Linked DNA regions of Homo sapiens: regions 1, 2, 3 and 4 are each linked to region 5. The links come from fine-mapping of genetic effects on gene expression. A gene starts in region 5. Each other region holds a variant in brackets. All regions are shown on one strand. Distances are from middle to middle.

Region 1 (4,968 bases), 47 kb after region 5:
AGAAACTTGAACATTAGGAAAGCTTAAACAGATGCCATTATGTATAGAAAATGGAATGTTTTATAAAAACTTTTTTTTGTTTTTATGAATAAGTGCAATTTAATGTTTAGATTATTTAAACTATGACTTACCTGGATAAAAAAATAGTGAATGGTTATAGCACTGAGGTGATATAACAAGAAGTGGCTAGATAAAACTATCAGGTAGAGGCTTACTAGCAATACAGATTTTGAATTTATGTAGTTTAGATTTATAGAAACAATAGAAAAGATTTTTATGTTTTCAGTGTCATGAAAATGGATATGATTTTCAGTAAGGTGATTATCTAAATATGGAGAGACAGTGTCAATGTTATTTTAATATTGTAAATAAATAACTTTAATTCAGTAGTAAATAACTTTTATTCACTAGAGAAATGCATTTAAATATGATGTCTTAAATTCCAGGATATGAAAGATGGCAAGTCCAGATAGAAGTAAACGGAAGATATTAAAAGCCAAAAAGACAATGCCCCTAAGTTGCCGGAAGCAAGTAGAGATGCTGAATAAGTCAAGGAATGTTGAAGCGCTGAAAACAGCAATTGGGAGTAATGTTCCAAGCGGTAATCAGAGTTTCAGTCCTAGTGTCATAACTAGGACGACTGAAATAACCAAATGTAGCCCTTCTGAAAATGGTGCATCCTCATTGGACTCTAATAAAAATTCAATATCAGAGAAAAGTAAAGTATTCTCTCAGAATTGCATAAAACCAGTAGAAGAAATTGTTCATTCAGAAACAAAATTGGAACAAGTTGTTTGTTCGTACCAAAAGCCAAGTAGAACAACAGAATCCCCCAGCAGAGTCTTCACAGAAGAGGCAAAAGATTCACTGAACACTTCTGAAAACGATTCTGAGCATCAGACAAATGTAACAAGATCCCTTTTTGAGCATGAGGGGGCTTGTAGTCTAAAGTCCAGTTGCTGTCCACCCAGTGTATTGAGTGGTGTTGTTCAGATGCCAGAGTCTACAGTAACCAGTACCGTGGGTGACAAGAAAACTGACCAGATGGTTTTCCATTTAGAAACAAACTCCAATTCAGAATCACATGATAAAAGGCAAAGTGACAACATTTTATGTTCAGAAGACTCAGGTTTTGTGCCTGTTGAGAAAACACCTAATTTGGTGAATTCAGTCACTTCTAACAACTGTGCTGATGACATTTTGAAAACTGATGAGTGTAGTAGAACCAGTATTTCAAATTGTGAAAGTGCAGACTCAACATGGCAGTCATCACTTGACACTAATAACAACAGTAAGTATATACTTATGCACCTTTTAGAAAAATTAAAATAGTCACTTTTCTTTAGGGTATTTTAAAGTCTCAAATATACAAACCAGTATAGACAGAAAAAAGGTAAATGATGACAATTATTTCACAGTATCTTGTTTCTGAACCATTCTTAGTGAGGTGGGGGACAGGTATCCACCATATTAAAAGGGTAATTATTGCAAAGAAGGAATCAATCACTTTTCCTTAAGTACAAAATATCAAAAGGTGGTTTATAGCAATTATTTGGTTCATTTCATATACATCTCTTCTTATTTTGAAGTTTTATTAGATTAAGAAGGAGGCTAGTTGAAAGAGTGAGTTTTAAAAATTGTTGGTAACCCTATTTCTTTTTTTTTTTTTTTTTTTTTGAGACGGAGTCTCGCTCTGTCGCTCAGGCTGGAGTGCAGTGGCGCGATCTTGGCTCACTGCAACCCCCACCTCCTGGGTTCGAGTGATTTGCCTGCCTCAGCCTCCTGAGTAGGTGGGATTACAGATGGGCACCACTACGCCCGGCTAATTTTTTTTTTTTTTTTTTTTGTATTTTTAGTAGAAACAGGGTTTCACCATGTTGGTCATGCTGGTCTCGAACTCCTGACCTCGTGATCCACCCGCCTTGGCCTCCCAAAGTGCTGGGATTACAGGCGTGAGCCACTGTGCCCAGCCAACCCTATTTCTTTCTATAGAATTGACCTGTAAATCACATGCTAAGTATGATAGATAATATATTCACACATGTGTATATGTGTGTGTAGAGAAAGAGAAGCACCCCAAATAATAAATGAAGTCCTTGGGTTATAACATCATTAAAATAGCAAAAGTGAATTTCATTTGAAGTAGGGTATTTTGTTAATGAAATAGAAAAAAACTGATTTAATGCTATAAATTTTGTGTTCTTGTCTAGACTACAGAATGGTCATTTAACAAGATGAATTTAAAATTCCTTAAAAATAATAACAGTATCATCTATTTCAAATATGTATAATAGGCTGGGTGTGGTGGCTCATGCCTGTAATTAACAGCACTTTGGGAGGCCGAGGCAGGAGGATCGCTTGAGCCATCCAGGCTAGCCTGGGCAACAGATCCAAGACCCTGTCTCTTAAAGAAAAAAAAAGAAGCCGGGCGCTGTGCCTAACGAATACAATCCCAGCACTTTGGAAGGTTGAGGCAGGTGGATCACCTGAGGTCAGGAGTTCAAGACCAGCCTGGCCAACATGGCGAAACCCCGTCTCTACTAAAAATACAAAAAAAATTAGCCAGGCGTGGTGGTGGGCACCTATTATTATTATCGCAGCTACTTGGGAGACTGAGACAGGAGAATTGCTTGAACCTGGGGGGCGGAAGTTGCACTGAGCCA[A/G]GATCGTGCCACTTCACTCTTGCCTGGGCGACAAGAGTGAGACTCCTTCTCAAAATGAAAAAAGAGTACCTTTATATAAAATAACGTAGAACCACTTAAGTCACTATAAATAGAGAATTAAATGCCATAATTTGTTAAGTTTTTGTTCGTATATGTGTATTGAGTTATTAAGTAAGATTAAAGGGACAGAGTATCTGAGACCAGAACCCTACCTAAGATAACTCATTTTTTTTCAAGGTTAGTTTGTGGGTACGTATTTATGCAATTGAATGTTCTAAAAAATGCTGCAGTGTCACATTTTAGTTTTTCCATTTGCTCAGAGGGTCTCTAAATTAGAGAATTCCTATTTCCTTCTCTTTTTTCCTCCTTGAAACAGGGTCTCACTGTGTTGCCCAGGCTAGAGTGCAGTAGTCAAGGTGCTCACTGCCACCTCAACCTCCCAGCCTCAAGCAATCCTCTCACCTCAACCTCCTGAGTAGCTGAGACTACGGGCATGCCCCACCATACCCAGCTAATTTTAAATTTTTTGTGGAGATGAATTTTCACTATGTTGCCCAGGCTGGTCTTGAACTCCTGGCCTTAAGCCACCCTCCCTCCTTAGCCTCCCAGAGTGCTGGGATTACAGACATGAGCCACCACACTGAACCTGTTTTTTTCTTTAAAATATCTTTCTTTCTAATCTTTTGATCTCCTCAAGGCCATTATCAAAAGAAGAGGATGTTTTCAGAAAACGAGGAAAATGTTAAACGCATGAAAACTTCAGAGCAAATTAATGAAAATATTTGTGTAAGTTTGGAAAGGCAAACAGCATTCCTGGAACAGGTAAAATATTGGGGCTTAAATGGAACTTTTACTTTTGATTAGTAAAACATGGTAAAAGTTAATTATCTGGTCCCCACAGTGGCATAATACAGACGACTTTCACTTGCTGCAGAGCTGGTGTGTGAAAGCCAAATTATCAGACAGACTGGGGAGAGATAACTACTTACATTACCAAAACAGCTCTGGTTTCTTGAAAATGGTCTCATGCAGAATAACCTAGGGATCATGTGTAGGTAGAGTCCTGTTGCAAAAAGAGAATGGGCTTTCAGTCAGTATTACACTCATATTTGTCTGTAAGTCAGACACTGCATGACCTTCAGCTTTATTAAAGAATCCAGTCTCTTTTGTACTAGTCATGGGGTTCTTAGATCTGCAGCTCTATCCATTTGTAGATCTCACCACAACCCAGAAGACTCAAACAACCTGGAAGTCCATTGCAAAGTCCCTGTGCATTCAGGTTTACTTGCCCTATTTTCCAAACTTAAACGGATATGGTACATTATCTGACATTTTGCTGTATAGCATCATTAAATACACTTCTTGCTTTCATTGTGGCCTCATTTTATCTCATTGTACTACAGTCTCAGTATGCGTTTGATCAATTGTTAGCTGAAGTGTATGTAGCGTGTTTCAGTTCTAGTAGAATGGTTATACTGAGGACGGGTTTTGATGACCATGTTTTCCTATTTCACTACCACTAGAATGCCACCACTACAAATCATTACCTAGTAGACTAATGTCTTCCAGCTGTAATGGACCGAAATTTCCCCGTCTAAACTACCCTGCAAACTGTTTCAGAAACAGAAACACTACCATTTTTTAAAACAGACCATTACAATTACATAGTTACATATACTATGAATGTGTATTCTTCACCTAATAATAAGGGAAAATAAAGGGAAAGAGTTACGCAGAACCAGCTTAAAGGGCGAGTCAACAGTTTTTCTGTGTCTCCCTTTTGGTTTTCTTCGAAGAAGACCAAAGGAGACAGTAAAAAATATGTAAGTGTTCTGTTGTTGGCAGGGAAAGGGTAGAAGTATGGTAAGCATGGATCCTAGCCCTAAGGACCATGTTATTCAAGAAGAAGGTTGGGGATTCCAGCTGTGTCTTGTTTCCAGTAATTAGTAGCTGAAGTGAGAAGTAAGTTTTTGTTTGTTTGTTTGTTTGAGGCAGAGTCTCACTTTGTCACCCAGACTGGAGTGCAGTGGCACAGTCTCGGCTCAGTGCTACCTCCACCTCCTGAGTAGTTGGGACTACAGGTGTGCACTAGCACACCCAGCTAACTTTTTGTGTGTATTTTTAGTAGAGACAGATTTTACCATGTTGGCCAGGCTGGTCTTGAACAGCAGTTTCAGTGATCCGCCCGCCTCGGCCTCCCAAAGTGCTGGGATTACAGGTGTGAGCCACCGCGCCCAGCCAGAAGTAACTTCTGATGTGTACATAACCATCTCTAAATAGCTAGCTTTTCCTCACTTCTTATTGC
Region 2 (4,968 bases), 55 kb before region 5:
CTGGTCTCAAACTCCTGACCTCAGGTGATCCACCCTCCTCGGCCTCCCAAAGTGCTAGGATTACAGGCATGAGCCACCATGCCCGGCCTATTATTATTTTTTTGAGACAGGGTCTCATTCTGTCACCCAGGGTAGAGTGCAGTGGTGCAATCATGACTCACTGCAGCTTCAACCTGGCCTAGAGCCCAGATTCTAACCACTGCTTTTGTCAGAGGCCTTAAAACCAGCATGCCTCCATCTTGAGTGAGGGCTAGGAAAATGAGGCTGGGACTTACGGGGCTGCATTCCCAGAAAGGTATTCCTAGCCTCTAGATGTTTACAGTTAAGGGAACAGATTGATAGTGTTTACCGAACAGACTCAGACTTGGGAGTGTCCAGATATCCCGATATCTGGAGAGCAAAGGCATCCCTAATTTTGGTTTAAAGATAATAGGCCTGGCATGGTGGCTCACACCTGTAATCCCAGCACTTTGGGAGGCTGAGGTGGGCAGATCACCTGAGGTCAGGAGTTCCAGACCAGCCTGGCCAACATGGCGAAACCCCGTCTCTACTGAAAATACAAAAATTAGCTGGGCATGGTGGTAAACACCTGTACTCCTGGTTACTCGGGAGGCTGAGGCAGGGGAATCGCTTGAATCTGGGAGGCAGAGATTGCAGGGAGCTGAGATAGCACCACTGCAATCCAGCTTGGGTGACAGAGCAAGATTCTTTTTTTTTTTTTTTTTTTGAGACAGAGTCTCACTCTGTTGCCCAAGCTGGAGTGCAGTGGCCCCATCTCGGCTCCACCTCCCGGGTTCATGCCATTCTCCTGCCTCAGCCTCCCGAGTAGCTGGGACTACAGGTGCCCACCACCACGCCCAGCTAATTTTTTTAGTAGAAACGGGGTTTCACCACGTTAGCCAGGATGATCTCGATCTCCTGACCTCGTGATCCTCCTGCCTCGGCCTCCCAAAGTGCTGGGATTACAGGCATGAGCCACTGCGCCCGGCTGCAAGACTCTTATCTCAAAAAGAAAATAATAAAAATAGGCCGGGCATGGTGGCTCACGCCTGTAATCCCAGCACTTTCGGAGGCCAAGCTGGGCAGATAACCTGAGGCCTGGAGTTTGAGACCAGCCTGACCAACATGGAGAAACCCCATCTCTACTAAAAATACAAAATTAGCCAGGCATGGTGGTGCATGCCTGTAATCCCAGCTACTCGGGAGGCTGAGGCAGGAGAATCGCTTGAACCTGGGAGGTGGAGGTTGCAGTGAACCGAGATTGCACCATTGCACTCCAACCTGGGCGACAGAGTGGAACTCCGTTCAAAGAATAAAAAAAAAAAAAAAAAAAAAAGCCCCAGAACTTGTGACATTAACCTGTGCTTGCAGATGTGCTTGCTTACAGAAATGAAGGCCGGATGTCAGTAACCACAAACGAGCCACAGGATAAGAACTGTGGCTCCCAAGTCTGAGTCTGTATAGTAAACACTACCATCCTGCTACCCGGACCTGAATCCTTGCTTTTTCGCTGTATGAAAATATTCACCTGGGATGGGGAGAAATGTGCTTTGCTAGGCATATATAGTGCCAGTGGAAAAGAAAGAAGGAGACTGTGCATGCTCCAGTTCTCCCTGGAAGGTCCCACCTTTTTCCATAAATCACCACCCCCCAGTCTCCACCTACATGTTCTAAGAGACCTTAAAAACCCCCCTTCACCATACCCTCAGGGAGAAGGTGCTTTGAGCATGTGCTCTACTTCTCCATTTCTTTTCTTTTCTTTTCTTTTCTTTTCTTTTTTTTTTTTTTGAGACAGAGTTTTGCTCTGTCGCCCAGGCTGGAGTGCACTGGTGCAATCTCGCCTCACTGCAACCTCCGTCTTGCGGGTTCAAGCAATTCTCCTGCCTCAGCCTCCCAAGTAGCTGGGATTACAGGCACCCA[C/A]CACCATGCCCAGCTAATTTTTTTTATTTTCTGTACAGATGGGATTTCACCATGTTGGCCAGGCTGGTCTCGAACTCCTGACTTCAGGTGATCCACCTGCCTCAACTTCCCAAAGTACTGGGATTACAGGTGTGAGCCACCACGCCCGGCCTGAAATTTTTTTTTTTTATCAACACGGAACTCCAAAAGTTGAAACCTACTGGACAAAGAGTTTAGGAGAACCTGAGTAGAGTTTGGTGAAGAAGAGAATCTCTGTCACAGGTCATTTGAGTGTTTGAATAGAGCATTGTTCTACGCTTGACATCGGGGACTCTATCTTGGGCTACTGACCCCAGACTGAACTAATGATGAACTTTTTTTTTTTTTTTTTTTTTGAGACAGAGTCTCTGTCTCCCACGCTGGAGTGCAGTGGCACGACTATGGCTCAGTGGCTCACTGCAGCCTCAACCTCCCAGGCTTATGCAATCCTCCTGTCTCAAACTCCTGAGTAGCTGGAACGACAGGTGTGCACCACCACACCCAGCTAATATTTTTGTATTTTTTGTAGAGACAGAGTTTCACCATGTTGCCCAGGCTGGTCTTGAACTCCTGGGCTAATCTGCCTGCCTCAGCCTCCCAAAGTACTAGGATTTTAGGTGTGAGCCACTGTGCCTAGATTGGGTGGTGGACTTTGAGACCCACAAAGAACTGTGAAAAACAGTTCTCTCACAAACAACCATGCTCTCGACAATATACAATACAAGGAATCTGGTCCTAATCTTTAGGGACAGTCTGTGTAGTTTTTTCCTAACTGACCCAAATGTACCCTTCCACTAATGACTAACAACTTCTTTGCTTAATCCATCAATAAAATAATCTGGTAATTTATGTCATCTGAAAAATTTCCTATAAGCCTTTCTTGTCCCTCTTGGGTGGTGGTCTCTGGGGCCTGGTTGCAACCCCCATTCCTGAATAAATGCTTATTTGCCTCTGACCTGTTGATTCCTTTTTTTTTCTTTCTTTCTTTTCTTTCTTTCTTTCTTTTTTTTCTGATAGTCTGGACAAAATCTGAACAGAATTTACAGAAAAGTAGAAGAGAGAATAATTGAAGCATCTCTTATTGGGTCAGGTGCAGTGGCTCACTCCTGTACTCCCAGAACTTTAGGAGACTGAGGCGAGAGTATCACTTGAACCCAGGAGTTCAAGACCAGCCTGGACAACAGAGCAACACCCCGTCTCTACAAAAAGTAAACAATAAATTAGCTAGGCTTGTTGTGCGCGTCTATAACCCAGCTACTCAGGAAGCTGAGGCAGAAGGAGCACTTGAGCCCAGGAGCCTGAGGCTGCAGTAAGCTATGATGGAATGACTGCACTACAGCCTGGGCAACAGAGTGAGACTTGTCTCCAAAAAAATAAAAATTTAAAAGAAAATCTTATCTCTGGATTGCCTCCTGTACTCCTCCTTCTATGTCAGCCTTGGAGGTGCGTGTTTACAGTTCCAAGGATCAGAAAGCCCATAATTTTTTTTTTTTTTTTTGAGACGGAGTCTCGCTCTGTGTCGCCCAGGCTGGAGGGCAGTGGTGTGATCTCGGCTCACTGCAACCTCCACCTCCCGGGTTCAAGCGATTCTCCTGCCTCAGCCTCCTGAGTAGCTGAGATTACAGGTGCGTGCCACCATGCCCAGCTAATTTTTGTATTTTTAATAGAGACAGGGTTTCACCATGTTGGTCAGGCTGGTCTCAAACTCCTGACCTTATGATCACCGGTCTCCTCAGCCTCCCAAAGTGCTGGGATTACAGGCATGAGCCACTGTGCCTGGCCTCAGAAAGCCCATGATTTTGTGCTATGAAATCAAAAGGCTGGACCTTGTAAAGGAGCCAGTGGTCACCTCCAGCTCCCCTTTAGCTCCTATGTGGGCTCTTTGGCTGGATCTAGACACCAAATTGACACCATGCAGATTAACAAAAGTATATACATTTTATTAGTTTTACCTGTACATGGGGGTCTTCATAATAGCGTGAAGTTCAAACAAGTGGCTAAAGATAGATGCTTGTATACTATTTGTACACTATTTAGATTACATTTGAGAAGAAATGACAGGAAAACCTGGCTAGGGCAATAAATTTTCTAGGGGAGTTGCTAGGAGATATATGGGGGTGTCAAACAGTGGAAGATAAAGATTGTTTCATTAAGTATGTTTATTCAGGTCCATCACAGTCCCCAATTCCCAGTCTCTGGTGATAAGGGCTATTTTCTCACCCTGGTATGTGACAGCCCTCCTCCCAGAGGAATTTTTATGGCCTGCTGCATGCACAAAGAGAGAGGTCAGTTAGCCCTTTTTAATTTTTTTTTTTAGAGCAAGGTCTTGCTCTTGCTCTGTCACCAGGCTGGAGTGCAGTGGCATGATCATAGCTCACTACAGCCTCAAACTCCTGGGCTCAAACCATCCTCTTGCCTCAGCCACTCAAGTAGCTGTGATTACAGGCATGCTCCACCAAGCCCAGATAATTATTTCACTTTTCTTTTTATAGAGATAGGGTCTTGCTATGTTGCCTAGCTGGTCTCAAACTCTTGGGCCCAACCAATCTTCCTGCTCGTGAAGAATCACATTCTTGGGCCCGAGCACGGTGACTGACACCTGTAATCCCAGCACTATGGGAGGCCAAGGCAGGCACATCACTTGGGCTCAGGACTTCAAGACCAGCCTGGCCAACATGATGAAACCCCTTCTGTACTAAAAACACAAAAATTAGCTGGACGTAGTGGTGTGTGCCTGTAATCCCAGCTACTCAGGAGGCTCAGACAGGAGAACTGCTTGAATCTAGGAGGCGGAAGTTGCAGTGAGCTGAGATCACGCCACTACGCTCCAGCCTGGGCAATAGAGCAAGATTCCATCTAAAAAAAAGAATCATTTTTTTGTTTCTTGTGAAGATCCCCATGTACATGTAAAACTAATAAAATGTGGGCCGGATGGGGTGGCTCATGCCTGTAATTCCAGCACTTTGGGAGGCTGAGGTGGGCAGATCACAAGGTCAAGAGATCGAGATCATCCTGGCCAACATGGTGAAA
Region 3 (4,968 bases), 920 kb after region 5:
ACATTATATTCATTTCCCAACGTTGTGGTAACAAATTCCCACAGACTGGGTGGCTTAAAACAATAGAAATGTATTCTCTCATGGTTCTGGAGGCCAGAAGTTCAAAGTCAAGGTGTTGGCAGGCAGGGCTGGTTCCTCCCAGAGGCTCTAGGGGAGAATCTGTTCCATGCCTCTCCCTAGCTTCTGGGAGCTGCTGGCGACCCCCAATGCTCCTGGGTGTGGAGATGCATTAGTCACTCCAGTCTATGCCTCCCTCTTCACAAGGCCTCCTTTCCATTGTCTTCTACCCTTCTAAGTACACTTGTTGTTGGATTCAGGGCCCACCCTAATCCAGAATGATCTCATCTCTAGATCCTTCACTTAATCATGTTTGCAAAGATCCTATTTCCAAACAAAGTCACCTTCATAAGGCTTTGAAAGGGGTTAAGATGTGAACTTATCTTTTTGGGGCCAGTACACATGGGACACAGATGAGTGCCAAAAGGAATCCCAGGAAGCTGTCAAAAGCAACAATAAGGATGTGAATAAAAGTAATATCTTAGGCTGGGTATGGTGGCTCACACCTGTAATCCCAGTGCTTTAGGAGGCCAAGGCAGGAGGATCACTTGGGCCCAGGAATTTGAGACCAGCCTGGGCAACATAGTGAGACCCCACCTGTACAAAAAAGTTTAAAAATTAGCCAGAGGTGGTGGCACAAGCCTGTAATCCCAGCTACTTGGGAGGCTGAGGCAGGAGGATCATTTGAGGCCAGAAGTTCGAGACCTGCCTGGGCAACATAGCAAGACCCCATCTCTACAAAAAATAAAACAAAAATTAAATAGTAATATATTGGCATATGGCCCAGCACCTGGCATATGACAAGTACATATGTATGTATATATGTATGTGTATATTATATATATATATACACACACACATACATACTTTTCTTATATCTATAAAGTTTTCAATCTCAGAGAAAATGTTTGGATGCGCTGGTTTTGCCCAGTTTCAATGTTTTCCCAAACACTAGCAGGTCTCCTCCATCTCTCTTGACTTTGTTGAAACACCTTTAGTCTCGTTTTCTGTTTGGCAGATGGCCAGTGTTCCTGCAGCTGCTTCAGGTCTGTACAAGCCCCACTTGTGGACACTTTATCTGCAAAGGGGGCCCCTGATTTTTCCAGCCTGGGGCCTTTCCTCCTGCCTCTCTTGGCCCAAGATGCCTCCACCCTCCGCCTTTCACCTGTTGAGACGCATTTTGTAAAATAAGTTTGCCCTCTGTCTGCCCTTGTTACAGTAGGCAGTCAGACATAAGCAGGGCAGGAGAGGGTGCCCCCCAACCAGGACTGTCAGGCCACCATCAGGTGATGGTCAGGTGATTTAACTGTCTCTCCAAAATAATAATTGGTTGTAGCCAGCACTGAGGAAAGGCAGGCTCCCAATAGATTAAAAAACACCAGAAATATGATCAGCAGCTTTGCGATAAGATCTCAGAGTTGGCTCAAGCATGCATACTAAGAGGCAGAATGGCAGAGTCTGGTCTGTGACCTGCTTCTAGGAACGCTGGACTGGTAAGGGAAAAACGCCTCAAGTGAGCATGCGCACAACTTCAGTAAACACACTGCGCATGCTCCCCTCCCAAGGACAGGCAGGCCACGGCTAAGGGGACGGCCCACCCCAAGGGAAGGATCGGGAGAAGTAGTGCAACCCTGGAAGCGTGCCAGCATATAAGACCTCAAGTCAAATGGCAAAGTGGGCAGTTGACTCGTTCAAGTCGCCCGCCTGGCACTCTTCCAAGTGAACTTGACTTCCTTTCATTCCTGCCCTAAAACTTTTTAACAAATGTTCACTCCTGCTCTAGAGCTTGCCTCTCTTTGCCTTATGCCCCCTGCGTCGAATTCTTTCTTCGGAGGAGGCAAGAATTGAGGTTGCTGCAGACTCGTATGGACTCACTGCCGCTAACACACACTGGTGCCCTGTGACTCAGATATGTTCCCTAGTGCTAACATTCCCAGCTCCAAAAGAACTGGGTCAAGTCTGTCCTGTTTACATTGCTGGGTCCTTGTGCTGGAAAAGGAGCCCCCACCCGCCCCCACTCCACAAAACCATTTCCAATAGTCTTGAGATTTCTCACCCTGCCCCGACCCACCTTTCTGACTCCATCTCCCCCACCCCTCCACATGCGTTATGTTTCAGTTGCCGGAATTGAAATCACGTTGCCGTTCCCTCTGCCTGGAATGCTTTTCTGCATTAGGGCATGGCTGATGCCTTCCTAGCTTCCAGATCTCAGCAAAGTGTCCTGGGGCTGCTGTGCCTGGAAGGGACACATTTTGGGTGCCTCCTTACATTATCCGCCCATACCACTGGACAATCGGGTGCTCTGTCTTGCCTCTCTGTGTGCTAGCTGCTTCTCTCCACCAAATCACAATATCCTTAAGAACAAGGACGTTGTTTTGTTCATGGCTTCAGTCCCAGCACCTAGCAAGTCGTAAGTGCTTAGAAAATAATGTGTTCAGAGGCCAGGCGCGGTGGCTCACACCTGTAATCCCAGCACTTTGGGAGGCCGAGGCGGTCGGATCACGAGGTCAGGAGAT[C/G]GAAACCATCCTGGCTAACACGGTGAAACCCTGTCTCTACTAAAAATACAAAAAATTAGCCGGGCGTGGTGGCGGGCGCCCGTAGTCCCAGCTACTAGGGAGGCTGAGGCAGGAGAATGGCATGAATCCGGGAGGCGGAGCTTGCAGTGAGCCAAGATTGCTCCACTGCACTCCAGCCTGGGTGGCAGAGACAGACCTTGTCTCAAAATAATAACAATAATAATAATAATAGTGTTCAATGTGTGAATTACATCATTCTCTCTCTCTGAAACAAGGGATTCAACTTACGGGTCATGGGTAGATTTCATGGTAGAGAATCTCCTAAAGTTGTAGGCAAAATATGGTCCCTGTGGAAGCATTTTTCTCACTGTGTCCATTTTAGGGGTCAGCATTCCCCAAAGACAGAACCTTCGCTTTACTTAAGTAATACTGCCTACCCCTGCAGTCGTCCTCTCCTTCCATTCTTGTTTCATTCTACTTGTTATTAAACATACACCAGGCCTCCTGTGCCAGTAGTTAAGGACACCAAACCATATGAGGGAAAGTCTCCGTCATGGTCATTTGGGTCTCACAGTGCCACGCATGCAGTCAGCATCTCATTCGTGCTGCCAAATGGAGGAAGGAAGTCAGATTCCACTTCAGCTGCGGAACCCCGGGCTGAAATGTTGCCTGTAATATCTACCCTGGAATCCCCAAGCAGAGAAAGCAGCATGAGTCTCAGCACTGGAAGCAGATGGAACCACCTGGAGGTTTCTACAGATCGTGGTGCCCCACCTCAGGCTACTTGGATCAGTGTGTCTCAGTTGGGGCACCAGCATCGGTATGTTTTAAAAGCTCCCGGGCCTGGCTGGGCGTGGTGGCTCACACCTGTAATCCCAGCACTTTGGGAGGCCGAGGCGGGCGGATCACAAGGTCAGGAGGTCGAGACCATCCTGGCTAACACAGTGCAACCCTGTCTCTACTAAAAATGCAAAAAATTAGCCAGGTGTGGTGGCGGATGCCTGTAATCCCAGCTACTTGGGAGGCTGAGGCAGGACAATGGCATGAACCCAGGAGGCGGAGCTTACAGTGTGCTGAGATGGCACCACTGCACTCTAACCTGGGCGACACAGCGAGACTCCGTCTCAAAAAAATTACAAATAAAAATAAAAAGTTCCCGAGGCATGCGATGGAATATTATTCAACAACAACAAAAAAGGAATGAGGTTCTGAGAACTGATTTTAAACCACGATACTACATTCAAACTACACCATGAGTGAACGTGGAAAACACGGTGTGTGGAAGAAGGCAGGCACAGAAGACCACTTATTATATGGTTCCATCTATGGGAAATGTCCAGAATAGGCAAATTCGTGGAGACAAAATTAGATTAAGCCTGGGCAGCATAGCAAAACCCCATCTCTATAAAAAGCAAAAAAATCTGGCCAGGCGCAGTGGCTCACACCTGTAATCCCAGAGATTCGGGAGGCCGAGGCGGGCAGATCACTTGAGGTCAGGAGTTCAAAACCAGCCTGGTCAACATGGCAAATGCTGTCTTTACTAAAAATACAAAAATTAGCTGGGCATGTTGGCACATGCCTGTTTTCCCAGCTACCCAGGAGGCTGAAGCAGGAGAATCGTTTGAACCCAGGAGGTGGAGGCTGCAGTGAGCTGAGATCACGCCACTACACTCCAGCCTGGGTGACAGAGTGAGACTATCTCAAAAAACAACAACAACAACAACAAAACCTTTTGTACACCCATGTTCATAGCAGCACTATTCACAATAGCCAAAATGTGGAAGCAACCCAGATGCCCATTAATGGGTGAATGGATGAACATGATGTGGTTTATATTAGGTTGGTGCAAAAGTAATTGTGGTGTTTGCCATTGAAAGTAATGACAAAAACCGCGATTACTTTTGCACCAACCTAATACACATTGCTATGGTCTGAACGCTTGGGCCCTCCGGCAATGCATATGATGAAATTCTCACCCCCACTGTGATGGTGCATTAGGAGGCGGGGCCTTTGGAAGGTGATTAGTTCATGAGGGCACAGCCCTCATGAATGGGATTAGCACCCTTATAAAACAATCCCATGAGAACGGGTTCACACCTTTCGCCATTAAAGATCCAACAAGAATCCTTCTTTCCGGTCTGTGAACCAATAAACAGGCCCCCAGCAGACATTGGATCTGCCAGCACCTTCATCTTGGACTTTTCAGCCTCCAGAACTGTAAGAAATAAACGTTTGGCCGGGTGCAGTGGCTCATGCCTCTAATCCCAGCACTTTGGGAGATCCGAGGCAGACAGATCACCTGAGGGAAGGAGTTCAAGACCAGCCTGGCCAACATGATGAAACTCCGTCTCTCCTAAAAGTACAAACATTGCCCAGGTGTGGTGGTGGGCGTCTG
Region 4 (4,968 bases), 87 kb after region 5:
ATATCTATCAATGCCTCAGCCGTTTTTGTAGTAAGTAACAAACTGATTAAAAACTTAAGGCCAGGCATGATGGCTTACACTTATAATCCCAGCATCTTGGGAGGCCAGGGCAGGAGGATCACTTGAGGTCAGGAGTTCAAGACCAGCCTGGCCAACATAAAAAAACATTTTTAAAAAAATTTTTTTAAAAAGTTAGCCAGGCCTGGTGACACATGCTGTCATCCCAGCTACTTAGGAGGCCGAGATGAGAGGATCTTTTGAGCCCAGAGGTTCAGGCTTCAGCAAGATACATTTGCACCACTACACTCCAGCCTGGGAGACAGAGCACGAGTCTGTCTCTTAAAAATATATATATATGTATATATATATATGTGTGTGTGTATATATATATATATGTGTGTGTATATATATGTGTGTGTGTGTGTGTGTGAATATATATATGAAAATGCAGAGACCCAGAAGATGAAAACAATGTTGGGAAAGAAAGTTAGAAGACTACACTATCTTTGTTCAAGACTTAACTATAAAGGTGTAGTATTAAGACAGTGGTGTTGGCATAGGGATAGGTATGTTGACCAGTGGACACACTAGAGACTGCACATGTAGTTCATTGGTTTACAACAAAGGTACCGATGTAGTTTAACAGGAAAAGATGTTCTTTTCAAAAATGTTGCTGGAATAGAGGGAAAAGTGAACCTCAGCTCTTACTTCATACCATAAACAAAAATTAACTCAAAATGGATCATACACCTAAGTACAAACAGTAAAAACAGAAGATGTCTGCAAGAAAATGGTATAATTGGACTGGGCGCAGTGGCTCACACCTGTAATCCCAGCACTTTGGGAGGCCAAGGTGGGCGGATCACCTGAGGTCAGGAGTTCAAGACCAGCCTGACCAACATGGTGAAACCCTGTCTCTACTAAAAATAGAAAAATTAGCCGGGCATGGTGGCATATGCTTGTAATCCCAGCTACTGAAGAGGCTGAGGCAGGAGAATCGCTTGAACCTGGGAGACAGAGGTTTCGGTGAGCCAAGATTGCGCCACTGCACTTCAGCCTGGGGGACAAGAGCAAAACTCCATCTCAAAAAACAAAAAAGTCGCTCATAAAAAAAAAGGGTCAAAATGGCTTGAAATATTCTATAACCGTAATCAGCATCATTTATCATCATTGTCTCAAATTTGTGGTAAATATTGCTACTGGAGAGATAAAATGAAGAGTAGTAGCAGTTCTTTTTAAAATAATTTTCTTTGTTATAGTTTTCTACCTTTAGGAGTCCAGGTGTCTTTATGGGTCTTAATAGATTTCCTTCATTACATGATGTTTCATTTTTATAGAAGTAAGTATATACGCTCAAAGGAATTTGTATGTTTTATACATTTATGTCCATTGTATACTTATATATATTTTGAGTCATTGTGAAAGACCCATAAAATGTAGTAGGGATCTAATTATTGGATTTTGATGAATCTTTAGTCATATAACGGAACTGGTAATAAATGGAGTTTTTTTGGGTATTTGGTTTTATCATTTCTATTTCCCCCCACGATTGTTCAATTAAAACATTATGAAATGTTAAGTTAGAGGACTCCTAACCACTAATTGCATGTTTAAGCCTGATAATGCATGTTTAGTTTTTGTTTTTAATTTCTTTTTATCATTTTAGTAACAATGATGATGTTATGTTGATTTCTGTGGAAAGTCCTAATTTGACAACTCCAATTACATCAAATCCAACAGGTATCTTATAGCTGATTAGAATATGATCTATCAAGTTAGAAGGCCTTAAATCAATGTTTGCTTTAAAGTGAAAAATTGAATAATATCTTTTAATAAAATGAAAAAGTTAAATGTACTCTCAAATGTTCTAATTTATATCATGGTTAATATTACCTAAATAAATGATTCCTTAATGTAATTGAGATTTCATTTTAACCTTGTGTTTTATCAGTTTAGGGCCTTTTGTTTCTTTTATGTGTTTAATGACTTTATAACTTGTAAAAACTACTTATTTTTAATGGTTTGCCCTGGCCTTTTTTTGATGGTAGTGACGGTTTGTTTTTTGTCTTCTTATTTTTTATCTATTAAGTTATCTTATAGTCTACTTAAGATTTAAAATTTGTCTAGTCAGTCTGGGTGTGGTGGCTCACACCTGTAATCCAAGCACTTTGGGAGGCTGAGGCAGGCAGATCACCTGAGGTCAGGAGTTCAAGACCAGCCTGGCCAACAAAATGAAACCCCATCTGTATTAAAAATACAAAAATTAGCCAGGCATGGTGGCAGGTGCCTGTAATCCCAGCTACTCTGGAGGGTGAGGCAGGAGAATTGCTTGAACCTTGGAGGCAGAGACTGCAGTGAGCTGAGATCGTGCTACTGCACTCCAGCCTGGGCAAAACAGCAAGACTCCGTCTCAAAAAAAAAAAAAAAAAAATTTTAACCTTACATTTCCAATGATAACTTTTCTCTCTCTCAAAAATACCCATCTTGTTTGGCTCATAATTTCTTATTCAAAATTCCCCATTTTCATTTCATTTTCTACTATGTTAAAGTATTTGCATCTTAATTTTAAAGCTTTGCCTCCACTTAATAGCTACTTAATTGTCCCCACAATTTGGGCTAAGATTGTGAATCAGAGAATTACAAAGGATGTTAATCATTTATCTTAGGCTTCCTACTGGTTCCAGGAAGAGTGCTTCTCAGCCATGTCAGGCAGTTGTAGTCTAAA[A/G]ATACTGTGAATTAAAAGTGTGTGCATTTCCAGGTGTATTTTCTCATGGAAATTTCTAGGTAGATTTTCAAAAAAAGAGTTACTAATATAGTTGCAAAGTTACAGAAAGACAAAATGGTTTGACCCAAAATTACATTTTTTTAAAAAAATTTCATTCAGTCTTTGGAATAGGTAAAGTCAATTGAGTTACTTTTTATCACTGTATAATTAACAGCTAATTAGCATCCCTATTATTTTGTTTTAGCATTCATATTTCACAAAGCCCATAAATATTGTGTAATAAATTTGTCAAATGTCTAATTTCTTTCAGATACCAGAAAAATTACATCAGGAAATTCTAGCAATTCTCCCAATGCTGAAGTTATGGTGAGTAATAAATATTGACTCTGAATATTGTTTATTTAAATATGTTAGTTCAAGGAACTTTAGTGTTTGCTACATGTTGGATGATTTAGTTTTAGTCCACGTTACACACTGAAAAGCAGACAGCTAATGATAAGCATAATTCATAACGATACTCATTTACCAAATTCATTTACATTCTCCTTAGTCATATTCTCAGAAACCATTTAGTATTTTATAAGAGCTTTTTAATAGTAGAGTTAAACCACAAGAGACTTAGAGAATGTTCCATCTCTAGTTTCCGAATGGTGATTTAAAATTACCATTTAAAATTACCAAATGGTTTTAAATTTTTAAAAACATTTTCAGCTATTGAGGCAAAGCTTTTTTTTTTTTTTTACAATTTTTTTAGGCTGTACAGAAGAAACTTGATTCTATAATTGATTTGACAAAAGAAGGCCTATCCAACTGCAATACAGGTAAAAGGATTTTTTAGATCTTTCTTTTGTAAAAAGGAGGGAAGGGTAACAACTCATAATGCACTGGGTCTACTTATGAAGTTTGTTTTAATATGTGAGTGTGCCTATGTTTATATCTCTGTGCAGTTTTAGCTCATGTGCAGATTCATGTAACTGCCGTCACAGTGACAAAGCTCCTTCATGCTACCCCTTTATACTCACACCTTGTTTCTGCCCCAATCCCTGGCAGCCACCAATCTGTTCTGTACTATAATTGTTATTTCACAAATTTACATAAATTTGATAATGCAGTATGTGTCCTTCGGAGATTGACTTCTTCCGAGGGTCATCCACATTCTTGTGTAACAGTAGTGTGTTCCTCTTTATTGCCAAGAGTAGCCCGTGGTGTGGATGCATCATAATTTCTTTATTCATAAACCCATTGAAAGACATCTGGCTTGTTGGGGACTTTTACACATTTATTTTCTTCCTGTGGTACATACTTTTTTCCCTAACCACAACAATAGCAGCTAAGAGGACGCACAGAGAAACAGAAACTGGGGTATAACATGAAAATGTAGACAGAGAGTGACAACAGTGTCTGTCGTCTTTCACAGATTTAAGGAAAAAGAAGTGAAATACAGTCGTGGGGCTGGGGATCAGTTATAAGGTCTCATTGGAATTTAATGAAAAGTATAAACCCACATACCCAAGGTGTTTAAAAAACTCCAGGATAAACACAAAAGAATTCATACCAAGACATAACATAGTCAAGTTCCTGAAATCCAGTGATAAGGAGAAAAATGAAGATACAATGCAGGTGAAAGAACAAAGAATTCACAGGTTTCTAGGCTAGAACAATGCAAGCCAAAAGACAATTGAATGACTTCATTAAAAGGTTGGGGGAAAATAACTGTCAACCTGTAATTCTTTATCTAGAAAATATGGCTTTCAAAAAAGAAAGCAACTTTGGGAGGTCAGGGCAGGAGGATGGCTTGAGGCCAGCAGTTTGAGACCAGCCTAGGCAACATAGGGAAACCCCATCTCTACAAAAATAAGAATAAATAAAGCAAAATTAAAATTTTTCAGATCAACAAAATTTGTTGCCAGCAGACCTTTGCTATCAGAAATAAAGGAAATTCTTCAAATGATAGTAAAAGATACCAGATGGAAAGTAGATCTACACAAAGAATAAAACTATATTGTAGAATGTATATAGAAGTCAGTAGATGAAAACAGTAGTGCAAAAGATAGTCACAGGATTGGAAGTATGCTGTTACAAGGCTCTTAAATGGAGTGGTGTCACGTTATTTGAAGCTAGACTGTGATAAGTTAAAGATATATATGGTAATGCCTAGAGCAACAGTTTTTTCTTTTAAATAGAAGTAAAGCTAAGAAACCAATAGTGGAGATAAAAAGGAATTTTTAAAATATCCAAACTGG
Region 5 (4,968 bases):
CTCAAGTGATCTGCCCACCTTGGCCTCCCAAAGTGCTGGGATTACAGGCATGAGCCACCGCACCCAGCCAACAATAAACTTTATTAACATAATGTCCAGTAAATATCAATTATTATAATTTTTTTATAGAGATGGGGTCTCGCTATATTGCCCAGGCTGGTCTCAAACTCCTGGGCTCAAGCTATCTGTCGGTCTTGGCATCCTAAAATGCTAGGATTACAGGTGTCCACCTGGCCTATTATATTACTATTGTTAAAATGACATACAAGATATCCTAGTACCTTAAATAGACATAACATTTCTAAAGGCTAGTTACTCACTGTTAACTGAATTAAGTCCAAATTCCTTATCTGACTGCAACTTACTACCTCCCACTCCCTCCCACACTATCTCTCTTAGCAACCCTATAATTATTTTCAAAATCATGTTCTAGAACAACAAAAAATGTGCAAAGATTAGGATTGTTTTACATTTTTGCTAATTTCCTTAACGTCTGACTTAATACAGTAAGACTCTCTCTCTCTTTTTTTTTTTTTTTTGGTTTTTGAGACGGAGTCTCACTCTGTTGCCCATGCTGGGGTGCAGTAGTGCGATCTTGGCTTACCACAAACTCCACCTCTCGGGTTCAGTCGATTCTCCTGCTTCAGCCTCCCGAGTAGCTGGGATTACAGGCACGCGCCACCATGCCCGGCTAATTTTTGTATTTTTAGTAGAGATGGGGTTTCACTATGTTGGCCAGGCTGGTCTCGAACTATTGACCTCATGATCCGGCTGCCTCAGCCTCCCAAAGTGCTGGGATTACAGATGTGAGCCACTGCGCTTGGCCTCTCTCTCTCTCTTTTCTAAGACAGTCTCTTGCTCTATCACCCAGGGTGGAGTGCAGTGACACTATCACAGCTCACTGCAGTCCCTAACTCCTAAGCTTAAGCGATCCTCCCGTCCTCTCAGCCTCCCGTGTAGGTGGAAGGATGCAGCTAACTTTTTATTTTTACTTTTCTAGAAAAGTGGGTATCTCACTTTGTTGCCCAGGTTGGTAGTTAGATTCTCATGTCTGCTTCTGTATTCAATCTGTAGCAATATCACCCGTCGATTTTCCAGAGGCTTCTAGAAAATTCCATGTACTCTCCTGACTCAGAGAATGAAAAAAGCAAAATCATCTTTATATTATTATAAAAATAGTATAATTATAAAAATAGGATTGACATTAAAGATTACCCCTAGATCCCTGGAGCATATTTGGGGAACTGGCTGGTTGGAGTATGTTATTCCATTGATGACCCAACCTAGATTGTCCGGACTTGCCTCATTTTTCTCCTAACTGGAAGTGACAAGGCAGGCAGCTCTAGCCTCATGACAAGCGTGGTGGCTCACGCCTGTAATCCCAGCACTTTGGGAGGCCGAAGCAGGTGGATTACCTGAGGTCGGGAGTTCATGACCAGCCTGATCAACATTGAGAAACCCCGTCTCTACTAAAAATAAAAAAAAAACTTAGCCAGGCACTGTGGCGCATGCCTATAATCCCAGCTACTTGTTGGGGGCAGAGGTAGGAGAAGCGCTTGAACCCGGGAGGCGGAGGTTGTGGTGAGCCGAGATCGCGCCATTGCACTCCAGCCTAGGCAACAAGAGCAAAACTCTGTCAAATAAATAAATAAATTAATTAATGAAAAAGAGGGCATTATGGATCTAATCTACTGTTGTATTTCCTGTATTTTCTACACAGTGGGCATTCAGTGACCACCTGTTGAGTGAGTTCATGGCATCCAAGTGCACAGCCACCTAAGGCATCGGGCCTCATGAAATCACAAGCAGCCAAGGCTGGCAGGTTCCTGGGACAATTTAGCAAACTCAAGGCTATGGTGCGGGTGGGTGCAGTGGCTCATGCCTGTAATCCCAACATATGGGGAGGCAGAGGTGGCGGATCACCTGAGGTCCAGGAGTTCAAGACCAGCCTGGCCAACATAGTGAAACCCCATGTCTATTAAAAGTACAAAAATTAGCCGGGCATGGTGGTGCACACCTGTGGTCCCAGCTACTCGGGAGGCTAAGGCAGGAGAATCGCTTGAACCTGGGAGGTGGGAAATGGGGGTACAGTGAGCTGAGATCACGCCACTGAACTCCAGCCTGGGCGACAAGAGCGAAACTCCGTCTCAAAAAAAAAAAAAAAAAAAAAAGACTACGGTGCTAGGACCAATCTCCTGAGTCACAAAATTTAAGGAGTCGTCCAAAAAAGTAAATAAGATAAATATTTTCAAACAATATTAGAAAATTCAAATCGGAAACTACCGACCGGGTGAGGAGTTGTTTTTGTAAATAAGGTCTTATTCCTAATAAGTTTCGAAAGTCTAAATCTTCACACGAGTCACTCAAAAGAAAGGCCCAGCTCAGGAGCCTGCATCTGCGCTATGGCGGGTAAGCCCCGGTGGCTGACCGGAAGAAGCGCCCACGGAGGCGAACCCCAGGCGCCCCTCAGCCTACTTCCATTTCCCCTCGCGACCCTTCGCCCCGCCCACTCTAGCTGGCTGTGCCTGACTGGCTGGGCTGCCGCATATTCGCGCTGCCATTGGTCCATAATCAGCTGGGGGTGGGCGTAGGGAGACCTACTTCAGCAGGTCCTGGCCGGACCAGCATTGTTAACGGCTGCGGTTCGAAGTGGCTGTGGGTATTGCTGCGGCTGGTGCGTCGTCGCTCTAGGTACGTTGGGGCCGGGCGAGTGTCCTGCGAGAGCGGCGATTGGCGGGGTGGCGGCTCTAGGAGCGTCGGTCGCCTCTCTGAGGGCCGGCCCCGGAGGCCTCGGAGCGCCGGGCCTACCGGACGTTTGCGGCGAAGCTGCCCTGACTGAAAAGCGTCCGCGGGGCCGTCTGACAGGTCCGGGAAGAGGCCCCTGAGGGGCGGACGGGCGCGTCTCCACCGTTTTCGCAGAGGGATACTGGTGAAGCGGGAGTGGTGTGCGGCCTCAGGTCCGGGCGGCACTGGGGTTAGGGACTGCGGAGGGAAGTGGTGCGTGTTTTTTGTCCTGAGGGGTAAGTAAAAGCTCGCTCTTGTCCGGAATGCTTTCAGAAATTAACGGATAAATCTCCACCTCCACCAATTTTAGTGTCCCATTGCCAAATTTTCTTGAGTTGTTTTAATCATCTAATGAAGTCAGGTGCCAGAAGGCAACTGGATCTCGCCTGGCGGCCTTGAAGTTTGTTAAAAAGTAGGGACCAGAGCATCAGGAAAAATACAAAATTCTGAGTAAAATGCTGAAATCCCGTACCTCTGAGCTTGCCGGTGTAAGGATGGTAGGATTTAAGGAAGACGATTTCCTTAAGGTAGAAGTTCGTTTTTATGAATATGTTTTTAAGAAAATTCCATCTTATCGCCCTTCTCTAACCAGTTTTCTCCAAGTTTGGCAAGCAAGTTTGAGAAAGAGAGGACGCAATAATTTTTTTTGCCTTATTTTTGTTAAAACCTTACCGCACTTAAGGAAACGGACTTTCTACCTTTCCGTGTTTCTGTGTTGAAAATGAAGTTTCTAACCACGTGTTCCTTCCTTTACGACACAATGGCTTTTTCTGTTCTGAAGACTTGCATATGGTTAATATGTATGGAAGAAGAGGACAGTTGTACTGAATAGTCCACATTAGAAAAATTATGTCATATTCACTTAAATTGTTATTCTAGATTGCGACTTAATACTGTTTTTATTATGATTTTGTCATATTTATTGTAGCCAGTAAATGACCTGCGACATAACTATTTGCAAAACAAATGGGGAAGACCAAGATAAAGATAAGTTATATCACAGGAAAGCAATTGAAAATGCAAAAATGAAGCATCTGAATGAAGGACTAATAACACTGAATTCAGCTTTTGTGAAGTATGCCTTTCTTCTTAGCTCGTTTATTCTGCAATACGTTTGTAGAAGTGTTGACTCCGATCTTAATCAAATTTACTTCACTCTCAGTCTTATCTGCAGATATGTACAGACCACATCCTAAGATTGACTTCTGCCTCAACAGAAATACATGAGCCAGTGCCTTATTGGAAATGATTTGCGTGTTTTAAGAACTGGTGTATATAGGTACATCTTGAATGTTCTGCTTTCCTTGCCTTATGCCTGTACTTCACCTCAGCCTTCAATTCCATTGTGTTTCCTTGCTACTTGGTATCTTGAAATCTGGTACGAAACTATTGCATGATCCCTGCACCTTTGCTTCTGCATATATCATAGCTCTCTTATAGTGAGTGTGCACAATCTATTTCATTTGATGTAATCAAAGTTTAATATATTGGATAGTTAAAAATAAAATACAACTTTAAATGCGCAAGAGTATTAGTTCTCATTGTTGAGCGAGATGATACAAAATACCAAAAAATCTTATTCTCTCATTCTATGTCAGTCTATTTTACTCCCCCCCCCTCCCCCCGCCACCCGGACACACACACACTGCGGTGACTTATCTATCTCGTTTATTTTATTTTATTTTACTTATTTATTTTTCTTTGTGAGGCAGAGATTCGCTCTTTGGCTCAGGCTGGAGTGAAGTGGCGCGATCTCGGCTCACTGCAACCTCCTCCCTCCGGGTTCAAGTGATTCTCCTGCCTCAGCCTTGCAAGTAGCTGGGATTATAGGCGCCCGACTAGTTTTTGTATTTTTAGTAGAGATGGGGTTTCACCGTGTTGGCCAGGCTGGTCTCGAATTCCTGACCTCAGGTGATCAGCCCGCCTCTGCCTCCCAAAGTGCTAGGATGACAGGCGCTAGTCTTAGCGCCCGGCCTATCTCATATTTTTATATCATTTAGATAATTATTCTGCTTTACAGTAGACTAGGATAGTTTTTCATCTTCATTTTTACCAACGATGGGACAGATTGGAGTCAGCCAGTGTCTAGAGAGAAATAACCATGACTTTTTGGAGGAAAGGGAGATAATATATTGGATTTTTTTGAACTTCTGATTAAGCCATGAAATGTTTAGAGAGGTGTTA

Alleles and levels. Alleles are on the strand shown, and positions count from the first base shown. SD is a standard deviation of normalised expression in the study named. Not every link is listed here.
For the expression in whole blood of the gene that starts at base 2,630 in region 5, A is the high allele of the variant in region 1 and G is the other (small effect, 0.27 SD a copy in Lepik 2017).

Evidence for each region. PIP is the estimated chance that this variant, and not a neighbour inherited with it, causes the effect. A credible set is the group of variants that fine-mapping cannot tell apart.
Region 1: its variant is the best candidate, but not a certain one, in a credible set for the expression of ATF7IP2 in whole blood (Lepik 2017, PIP 0.64).
Region 2: its variant is the best candidate, but not a certain one, in a credible set for the expression of ATF7IP2 in whole blood (INTERVAL, PIP 0.68).
Region 3: its variant is the best candidate, but not a certain one, in a credible set for the expression of ATF7IP2 in whole blood (INTERVAL, PIP 0.84).
Region 4: its variant is the best candidate, but not a certain one, in a credible set for the expression of ATF7IP2 in blood mononuclear cells (TOPMed, PIP 0.52).

The regions. Positions count from the first base shown.
Region 1 is chr16:10,430,165-10,435,132 of GRCh38, forward strand. It overlaps ATF7IP2 (activating transcription factor 7 interacting protein 2), which reads left to right. Exons shown (of 14, transcript NM_001393719.1): 5 at 447-1,291; 6 at 3,361-3,485. The coding sequence starts at 457. Among named protein-coding and RNA genes, the nearest start is that of ATF7IP2, 47 kb to the left of the region's middle. The variant A/G (reference allele first, on the strand shown) is at 2,664.
Region 2 is chr16:10,328,274-10,333,241 of GRCh38, forward strand. No RefSeq gene overlaps it. Among named protein-coding and RNA genes, the nearest start is that of ATF7IP2, 55 kb to the right of the region's middle. RefSeq lists silencers at 1,279-1,573, 3,286-3,486. The variant C/A (reference allele first, on the strand shown) is at 1,921.
Region 3 is chr16:11,302,037-11,307,004 of GRCh38, forward strand. It overlaps MIR548H2 (microRNA 548h-2), which reads right to left and starts at 4,491; the gene lies at 4,404-4,491. The region is part of intron 1 of LOC105371082 (a long non-coding RNA gene); the gene reads left to right. The variant C/G (reference allele first, on the strand shown) is at 2,574.
Region 4 is chr16:10,470,444-10,475,411 of GRCh38, forward strand. It overlaps ATF7IP2 (activating transcription factor 7 interacting protein 2), which reads left to right. Exons shown (of 14, transcript NM_001393719.1): 10 at 1,667-1,740; 11 at 3,036-3,091; 12 at 3,480-3,546. Among named protein-coding and RNA genes, the nearest start is that of LINC01290, 55 kb to the right of the region's middle. The variant A/G (reference allele first, on the strand shown) is at 2,726.
Region 5 is chr16:10,383,432-10,388,399 of GRCh38, forward strand. It overlaps ATF7IP2 (activating transcription factor 7 interacting protein 2), which reads left to right and starts at 2,630. Exons shown (of 14, transcript NM_001393719.1): 1 at 2,630-2,691. RefSeq lists a silencer at 2,369-2,508.